Linked DNA regions of Homo sapiens. The protein of the gene in region 1 purifies or fractionates together with the protein of each later gene. This does not show direct contact. Each region holds a gene or a part of one and is shown in the gene's direction. Other genes may lie near its edges.

Region 1 (3,818 bases):
TCCTGCACAGGACTTGACGTTCCGGGTCAGCGATGGACTGCAGGCCAGCCCCCCGGCCACGCTGAAGGTGGTGGCCATCCGGCCGGCCATACAGATCCACCGCAGCACAGGGTTGCGACTGGCCCAAGGCTCTGCCATGCCCATCTTGCCCGCCAACCTGTCGGTGGAGACCAATGCCGTGGGGCAGGATGTGAGCGTGCTGTTCCGCGTCACTGGGGCCCTGCAGTTTGGGGAGCTGCAGAAGCAGGGGGCAGGTGGGGTGGAGGGTGCTGAGTGGTGGGCCACACAGGCGTTCCACCAGCGGGATGTGGAGCAGGGCCGCGTGAGGTACCTGAGCACTGACCCACAGCACCACGCTTACGACACCGTGGAGAACCTGGCCCTGGAGGTGCAGGTGGGCCAGGAGATCCTGAGCAATCTGTCCTTCCCAGTGACCATCCAGAGAGCCACTGTGTGGATGCTGCGGCTGGAGCCACTGCACACTCAGAACACCCAGCAGGAGACCCTCACCACAGCCCACCTGGAGGCCACCCTGGAGGAGGCAGGCCCAAGCCCCCCAACCTTCCATTATGAGGTGGTTCAGGCTCCCAGGAAAGGCAACCTTCAACTACAGGGCACAAGGCTGTCAGATGGCCAGGGCTTCACCCAGGATGACATACAGGCTGGCCGGGTGACCTATGGGGCCACAGCACGTGCCTCAGAGGCAGTCGAGGACACCTTCCGTTTCCGTGTCACAGCTCCACCATATTTCTCCCCACTCTATACCTTCCCCATCCACATTGGTGGTGACCCAGATGCGCCTGTCCTCACCAATGTCCTCCTCGTGGTGCCTGAGGGTGGTGAGGGTGTCCTCTCTGCTGACCACCTCTTTGTCAAGAGTCTCAACAGTGCCAGCTACCTCTATGAGGTCATGGAGCGGCCCCGCCATGGGAGGTTGGCTTGGCGTGGGACACAGGACAAGACCACTATGGTGACATCCTTCACCAATGAAGACCTGTTGCGTGGCCGGCTGGTCTACCAGCATGATGACTCCGAGACCACAGAAGATGATATCCCATTTGTTGCTACCCGCCAGGGCGAGAGCAGTGGTGACATGGCCTGGGAGGAGGTACGGGGTGTCTTCCGAGTGGCCATCCAGCCCGTGAATGACCACGCCCCTGTGCAGACCATCAGCCGGATCTTCCATGTGGCCCGGGGTGGGCGGCGGCTGCTGACTACAGACGACGTGGCCTTCAGCGATGCTGACTCGGGCTTTGCTGACGCCCAGCTGGTGCTTACCCGCAAGGACCTCCTCTTTGGCAGTATCGTGGCCGTAGATGAGCCCACGCGGCCCATCTACCGCTTCACCCAGGAGGACCTCAGGAAGAGGCGAGTACTGTTCGTGCACTCAGGGGCTGACCGTGGCTGGATCCAGCTGCAGGTGTCCGACGGGCAACACCAGGCCACTGCGCTGCTGGAGGTGCAGGCCTCGGAACCCTACCTCCGTGTGGCCAACGGCTCCAGCCTTGTGGTCCCTCAAGGAGGCCAGGGCACCATCGACACGGCCGTGCTCCACCTGGACACCAACCTCGACATCCGCAGTGGGGATGAGGTCCACTACCACGTCACAGCTGGCCCTCGCTGGGGACAGCTAGTCCGGGCTGGTCAGCCAGCCACAGCCTTCTCCCAGCAGGACCTGCTGGATGGGGCCGTTCTCTATAGCCACAATGGCAGCCTCAGCCCCCGCGACACCATGGCCTTCTCCGTGGAAGCAGGGCCAGTGCACACGGATGCCACCCTACAAGTGACCATTGCCCTAGAGGGCCCACTGGCCCCACTGAAGCTGGTCCGGCACAAGAAGATCTACGTCTTCCAGGGAGAGGCAGCTGAGATCAGAAGGGACCAGCTGGAGGTGAGGAGTTGGAGGTGGTGAGCAGGGGTGTGGGCCAGGTAGAGGGCCTTCTCCCAGCCTCCATGCCAGGAACACACGTGACTTGGGCTGTGGCTGTGGTGGCTCCAGGTTACATGTGTGCACGTGCCTCAGATGTGCTCCCGTATATGTTGTGCTCCCAGGAGTTTCTGGGGAGCTTGCTATACACCCATCCTCCTGGGAGTTGTGTGCGCCTCCAGAGGTTGTGTCCACTCATGTGTATGACATGGCTGAGCATGCAGATTCCTGGACCCCACCCAGCCCTACAGAATCTCTGACGTGGAGCCCGAGAATCTCCATTGCAGTCAGTTCCCTGGGAGGACATCACGGGTCCTGAGCTTTGGGGATTGCTGACCGTGGAGACAGGCCGCTACTCCTCAGACCCTCATGTCCCCCACTCTTTTCTCAGAGCCCAGACCTGGGTGGCTTCTGCCCACCCAGGAACCCCACAGAGCAACCACGGGCCCTCCAGCAGGCTCACTGACTTGCCCTGTGACCTCAGGCCAGTCCTTGCCCGCTCTTGGCCTTACTCTCCTACACTGCTCATTTCGGAGACCCTTCTGGTCTGCATGTCTGGAGCTTGGGGCCGACAGCAAGCCAGCAGATCTGGAGTCAGGAAGGCCTCGCGGGAGGAGGCAGCGTTTGGGCCGGGCTCTGAAGAGCACAGGCCATCAGGAGCAGAGAATGGGGAGTGGTATTCCAGGCAGAAGGAACATTCCGGGCAAATGCATAGAACAGGAATGTGAGTTTGGGGGGTGGTTTGGCCTCTTGTGGCTGGCCCATCAGGTGAGGGAGCCCGTGTGGCCTTTGGGGCGTGAGCTCTGTAGGGCCTGAGCTGAAGGCGGCTGTGCCTCCAGGAGGGGTGGGGCGGGGCGCCCTCTGATGGTCCTGGGTGGTAATAGCAGGGGCTGGGGAGGTGCTGCCTGCAAACCAGCCACAGGCCTGAACGGATCCTGAGCAGGGGGGCCTGTGTGTGTGTGTGTGCACACACGCATGTGTACATGTGTGACTGCGTCAGCATATGATGAACTCGTGTGTCTGTGTCACTGAGTCTGGGGACATGTGATTATGCACCTCCCTGAGGGAGTGCATCTCAAGCTGTGTGACCGACCCCCTGCAACCGTGTGTGGGGTGGGCATTAACATGTGACCAGCAGCCGGGGCAACCCAGTGAAACCCCATCTCTACACAAAAAATTTAAAAATTAGCCGGGCCTGGTGGCACATGCCTGTGGTCCCAGCTACTTGGGAGGCTGAGGTAGGAGGATCCCTTGAGCCTGGGAAGTTGAGGCTTCAAGGAACTGTGATTGTACCACTGCACTCCAGCCTGGGTGACAGAGTGAGACCCTGTCTCAAAAAACAAAAAATGTGACCAGCTGCATGTCTGGCTGCTGTGTGTGTGAACCCACGTGTGTGTTTGTGTGTCTAAATGAGCAGTGGTATCTAGAGGAATAAGTGGGGCAAGATCAAGCCTGTTCCGGCTTCTTAGGGCCACAGTGGACCCCTCTGAGACCCCCTCTGTGGCCCCCTGTGAGTCCTTGTGACCTCTGTTAACCAGGCAGCCCAGGAGGCAGTGCCACCTGCAGACATCGTATTCTCAGTGAAGAGCCCACCGAGTGCCGGCTACCTGGTGATGGTGTCGCGTGGCGCCTTGGCAGATGAGCCACCCAGCCTGGACCCTGTGCAGAGCTTCTCCCAGGAGGCAGTGGACACAGGCAGGGTCCTGTACCTGCACTCCCGCCCTGAGGCCTGGAGCGATGCCTTCTCGCTGGATGTGGCCTCAGGCCTGGGTGCTCCCCTCGAGGGCGTCCTTGTGGAGCTGGAGGTGCTGCCCGCTGCCATCCCACTAGAGGCGCAAAACTTCAGCGTCCCTGAGGGTGGCAGCCTCACCCTGGCCCCTCCACTGCTCCG
Region 2 (3,818 bases), on another chromosome or scaffold:
TAGTAAATTACGGGGGCTTCATTTATTAAGAATTTTCTACAAAATCCCCTTCATATACAGAGCATGTTCTTAATTGGGCGGGGGCTGGCGGGGTTAGGTGATTGCCTCGATGGCCTTGGTTTGCTTACCCAGTGAAGGCTCCCTCCTGAGGGTCTGGAGGTGTATGGTTGTGCTGTTTCCCAGGAGGGTGATGGAAGGGTCTCTGCGCAGCTGTGTTTGAGCAGAAGCCCCCGAGACCCCACCCCGTTTGTGCCTGCCAGGCCCGAGGCCCCGCCCACCTCAGGCCCAGCCCGGGCGGGGGCTCAGCGGCCCCTTGGCCTGGCTGCTAATGGCTGAGCAGAGACGCTTTTGTGGCTTTGCCAAATTTCTGAGCCCTTACGTGCCTACATTAAAATTCTAAATTATTTATCTCGTCTACCATGCAACAAATTCATTCTTTAACGTTTTGACTGAAGAAAAATTACAGACGGAACTTACAATGCCATTAAGAAAGGTGCATTCTGAAAGTCAGAGTCCTGTGTTCTGGTTGAATGGGGTAGGTCAGGGAAAGGAGAACCTGTGTGCCGTGAAACGCTTTGGAAAGGACTTTGAAAGTATTCGTATTTCCTCAAGCAAGACCGAGGAAAATAATGACAGAGGATCTTTAATTTAGTCAATATGGTCATGCATAAGCTATTAAATTCCCAATTATTTCCTTGCTTTGATATTTTGGTTTAAAATGCTTTATTTTTCTCTGTATGATTTTTGCAACCAATCCAAATGTAGGACTCCTGTCCTTTTCCTTTTTAAACCTTGTATGAGATCTATGGATTTAAAATCACTAAAACATGCTTTGAAAAATATCAACTTGGTTATTTATGTATTTATGCATTTATTTATTTATTTAGTAAACCCATTTGCAGAGCTAAATGGCTTACCTACACAGAGATAAAAGCCTTTAGAGTACTGAAGGTGCCTGATAATACCAAATTTAGCAAGTTGTACAGTGCGTAACATGCCAAGGATTCCTTTAGCATCCTTTCCTTGCTGGGATACACGTCAGTCCCTGTTCTCAGAATTCAGTGGTTCCCTGTCTCTCCCTTCACTCCAGTCTTCTGAAAAAAACACCTTCCTCTCCACTTTTCTTTTTTTCTTTTTTTGAGATCAAGTCTCACTCTGTCGCCCAGGCTGGAGTGCAGTGGTGCCACCTCAGCTCACTGCGACCTCTGCCTCCTGGGTTCAAGTGATTCTCCTGTCTCGGCCTCCTGAGTAGCTGGGATTACAGGTGCCCACCACCATGCCTGGATAAGTTTTGTATTTTTAGTAGAGATGGGTTTCACTGTGTTGGTCAGGCTGGTCTCGAACTCTTGACCTCAGGTGATCCACCTGCCTCAGCCTCCCAAAGTGCTGGGATTACAGGTGTGAGCCACCGCACCCGGCCTTTTTGCAAATTCTCTCCCACTTTCGTGCTTTTATGACCTCATTGGTTCTCCTTTTATCTTCTTCTTCTTCTTTTCAGGCTTTCCTTACGCTTCTTTAATACTGACTTCCGTAGATCTTACTTCCAACCCCCTACTCCCCAGCCCCCCACCCGCACCTATCTACTGCCGCCCCCTTGCCTCCCACACACAGATGTGACACTTTTAATGCACATTCTGTAGCCCTCATTTTTCCTTCTCCTTAGACTCTGCTATGGGAAATCTTGGTCCCTCACTGCCCCCATTCATCTGCCTCTCTGTTTGCGTTTACATGACTTGAGTGGCCTGTCAGTCCCGCTAGTAAAGTCTCCTCATCCATCCACTCTGTTTAAACAATCAAACTCTGAAACCTGTGTCTCCTGGACCATCCTATAATCCCTAAAATAGGCTGTTATGCTTTTCACCTCTGCCCTACTCTGTTAGCACTACCTTACTTATTGACCTCTTTCAATCAAATCGTTATCTAAAGGATACCTGTAACTCAGATAGGTTGCCTACTGGGCCTGTTTAGTTTTAAGTAAACCCCACTGAATATGAGAGACCCACCCTCTATTTGTATGTAGAGGCAGATTGATCGAAAAGTCCTTGAATAAAAAACATGATCTAGGGTCTGTGAAGTTTTGAGGGGGCCAAGACTTGGTGTTTTATGCTCTTGTGTTAGAGACATGATAGAGCATGGGCTTTGAAGAAAGGCATTTCTGTTCCTTATGGCTTATAGCTCTGGACCTTAGGCAAGTTAAGCTCTCTAAGCCTCATTTTACAGCATTGTCTGTAAAATAGGGATAAGAATAACTGCCTCATACTATTCGAAGACCTGGGATAATATATGAATGAAGTACTTACTATGGCTCTTGGCATATAGTAAGCAGACAATGCAAGCTGGCTCCAGCTCTCTTTGTATGGTAGATGCTCAATAGATGTTGAAAGGATGGTATGTACTCAAGACTTGGTGACAGAATTATGTCAAAATCCCAGTTACTAGGTTGAGATGGTTGAATATTGTTGAGTATTCTGTGGGCCTGGATGTGTATTGTAAGCATAGGGCCCTAACAGCATATGACCCCACTTGCTAATATACTAATGACTTGATTCCTTCATTATTGTTCATTGGACTCAGTATTCCTGAAATTACAAGACTTTGCTCATAGAAGACAAAATGTATACACAAATAGCCATTTAAGAGGATCTTAATACTATATGGCATAGTAAAAAAACAACAACAACAACAAAAAACATGGGCTTTGTTTCAGATCCCACTTTTGTTACTTTCTAACAGTATAGTTTTATGCTAGCTACTTTAAACCTTCTTTTCCTCATTTATCAAATGAGAATAATACCTGTCTTGTCAGATAGTTATAGGATATAATATATGACAATTGTCCTTTCTAGCAGATATTAGGCATTTAATAAATGGCAGCTATTATATGATGTTATATACACATACCCACAAAGATATACAGATATATAGATATGGAATTTTTATATAGATAAAAGTGTTTAAAGGAGACATTCACTAGAATTGTTTACCCATAACAGAAATATCAGTGAGGAAGAGAAAGTCGTCAATTCAAAAAACCAAAGATAAAATCCAAAGAATGTAAGTTGGGAGTACATGAGAAGTTCAGGGTGAACTCTCTTATCCAATTGCAGTCAATTAGAATGACATAAATGTAAAGTAAGAGGTCTTGGTTGTCTATGTTTAGATCATTTTAGGGTCAGAAAGAAATCTGAACAAATTGGTTTGAAATGCCAACCACTAGGACCAAGGCAATACTCTGCAAGAACATATAGGCTGAATTACCAGGACTTCTCGCCAAGACAAATGAAACAGGGCCATTGGGAAGAAATACTATATTTCTAACTTAAAATGCCAGAGAGTAACTGACGGTTTCCTAGGTGATAGATGGTTGCAAAGAGTACGGGCATGAAAAGGGGACACACACACACAAAAAAAAACCCTGTTTATACTTTGCCAACAACACCCCCCTCCATCTTATTTACTTTGAACATTCCAGCCATCTCTCTGCAGTAATTCCTGCTGGCTAATGAGGATTCCACACAGCTAGGGAACATGACAGCCTGCAAAGGATTATTTTCCTGAACAATCTGCATTTTAAGATAAGTCACCTTGTTGGTAACCTTTTGTACCCTTCATTGGAAAGGGTGACTCTCTTTGAAGACAGTTTGACCAAACAATGAGATCTAGGTGAATTTGAGGAAGATAGAACGGGCACTCCAGAAATATGGATAGTGGTGGAGCTGACAGCAGTTTTTCATGGTTGACGTAGGGAGTGGAGGCAGCTGTCATGGAGATATTAAAGTTGCCAGTGGAATGTTTTCCAATACATATTCCTGGGCCCC

Evidence for each region.
Region 2: the proteins of CSPG4 (region 1) and NEDD9 purify together in Homo sapiens (co-immunoprecipitation; one study listed by IntAct). This does not show direct contact.

What each region holds. Positions count from the first base shown.
Region 1 is NC_000015.10:75,685,349-75,689,166, reverse strand, and holds part of CSPG4 (chondroitin sulfate proteoglycan 4 precursor), read left to right. Parts: coding exon 1-1,891; intron 1,892-3,465; coding exon 3,466-3,818. UniProt on the Homo sapiens protein: Proteoglycan playing a role in cell proliferation and migration which stimulates endothelial cells motility during microvascular morphogenesis. May also inhibit neurite outgrowth and growth cone collapse during axon regeneration.
Region 2 is NC_000006.12:11,225,851-11,229,668, reverse strand, and holds part of NEDD9 (enhancer of filamentation 1), read left to right. Parts: intron 1-3,818. UniProt on the Homo sapiens protein: Scaffolding protein which plays a central coordinating role for tyrosine-kinase-based signaling related to cell adhesion. As a focal adhesion protein, plays a role in embryonic fibroblast migration.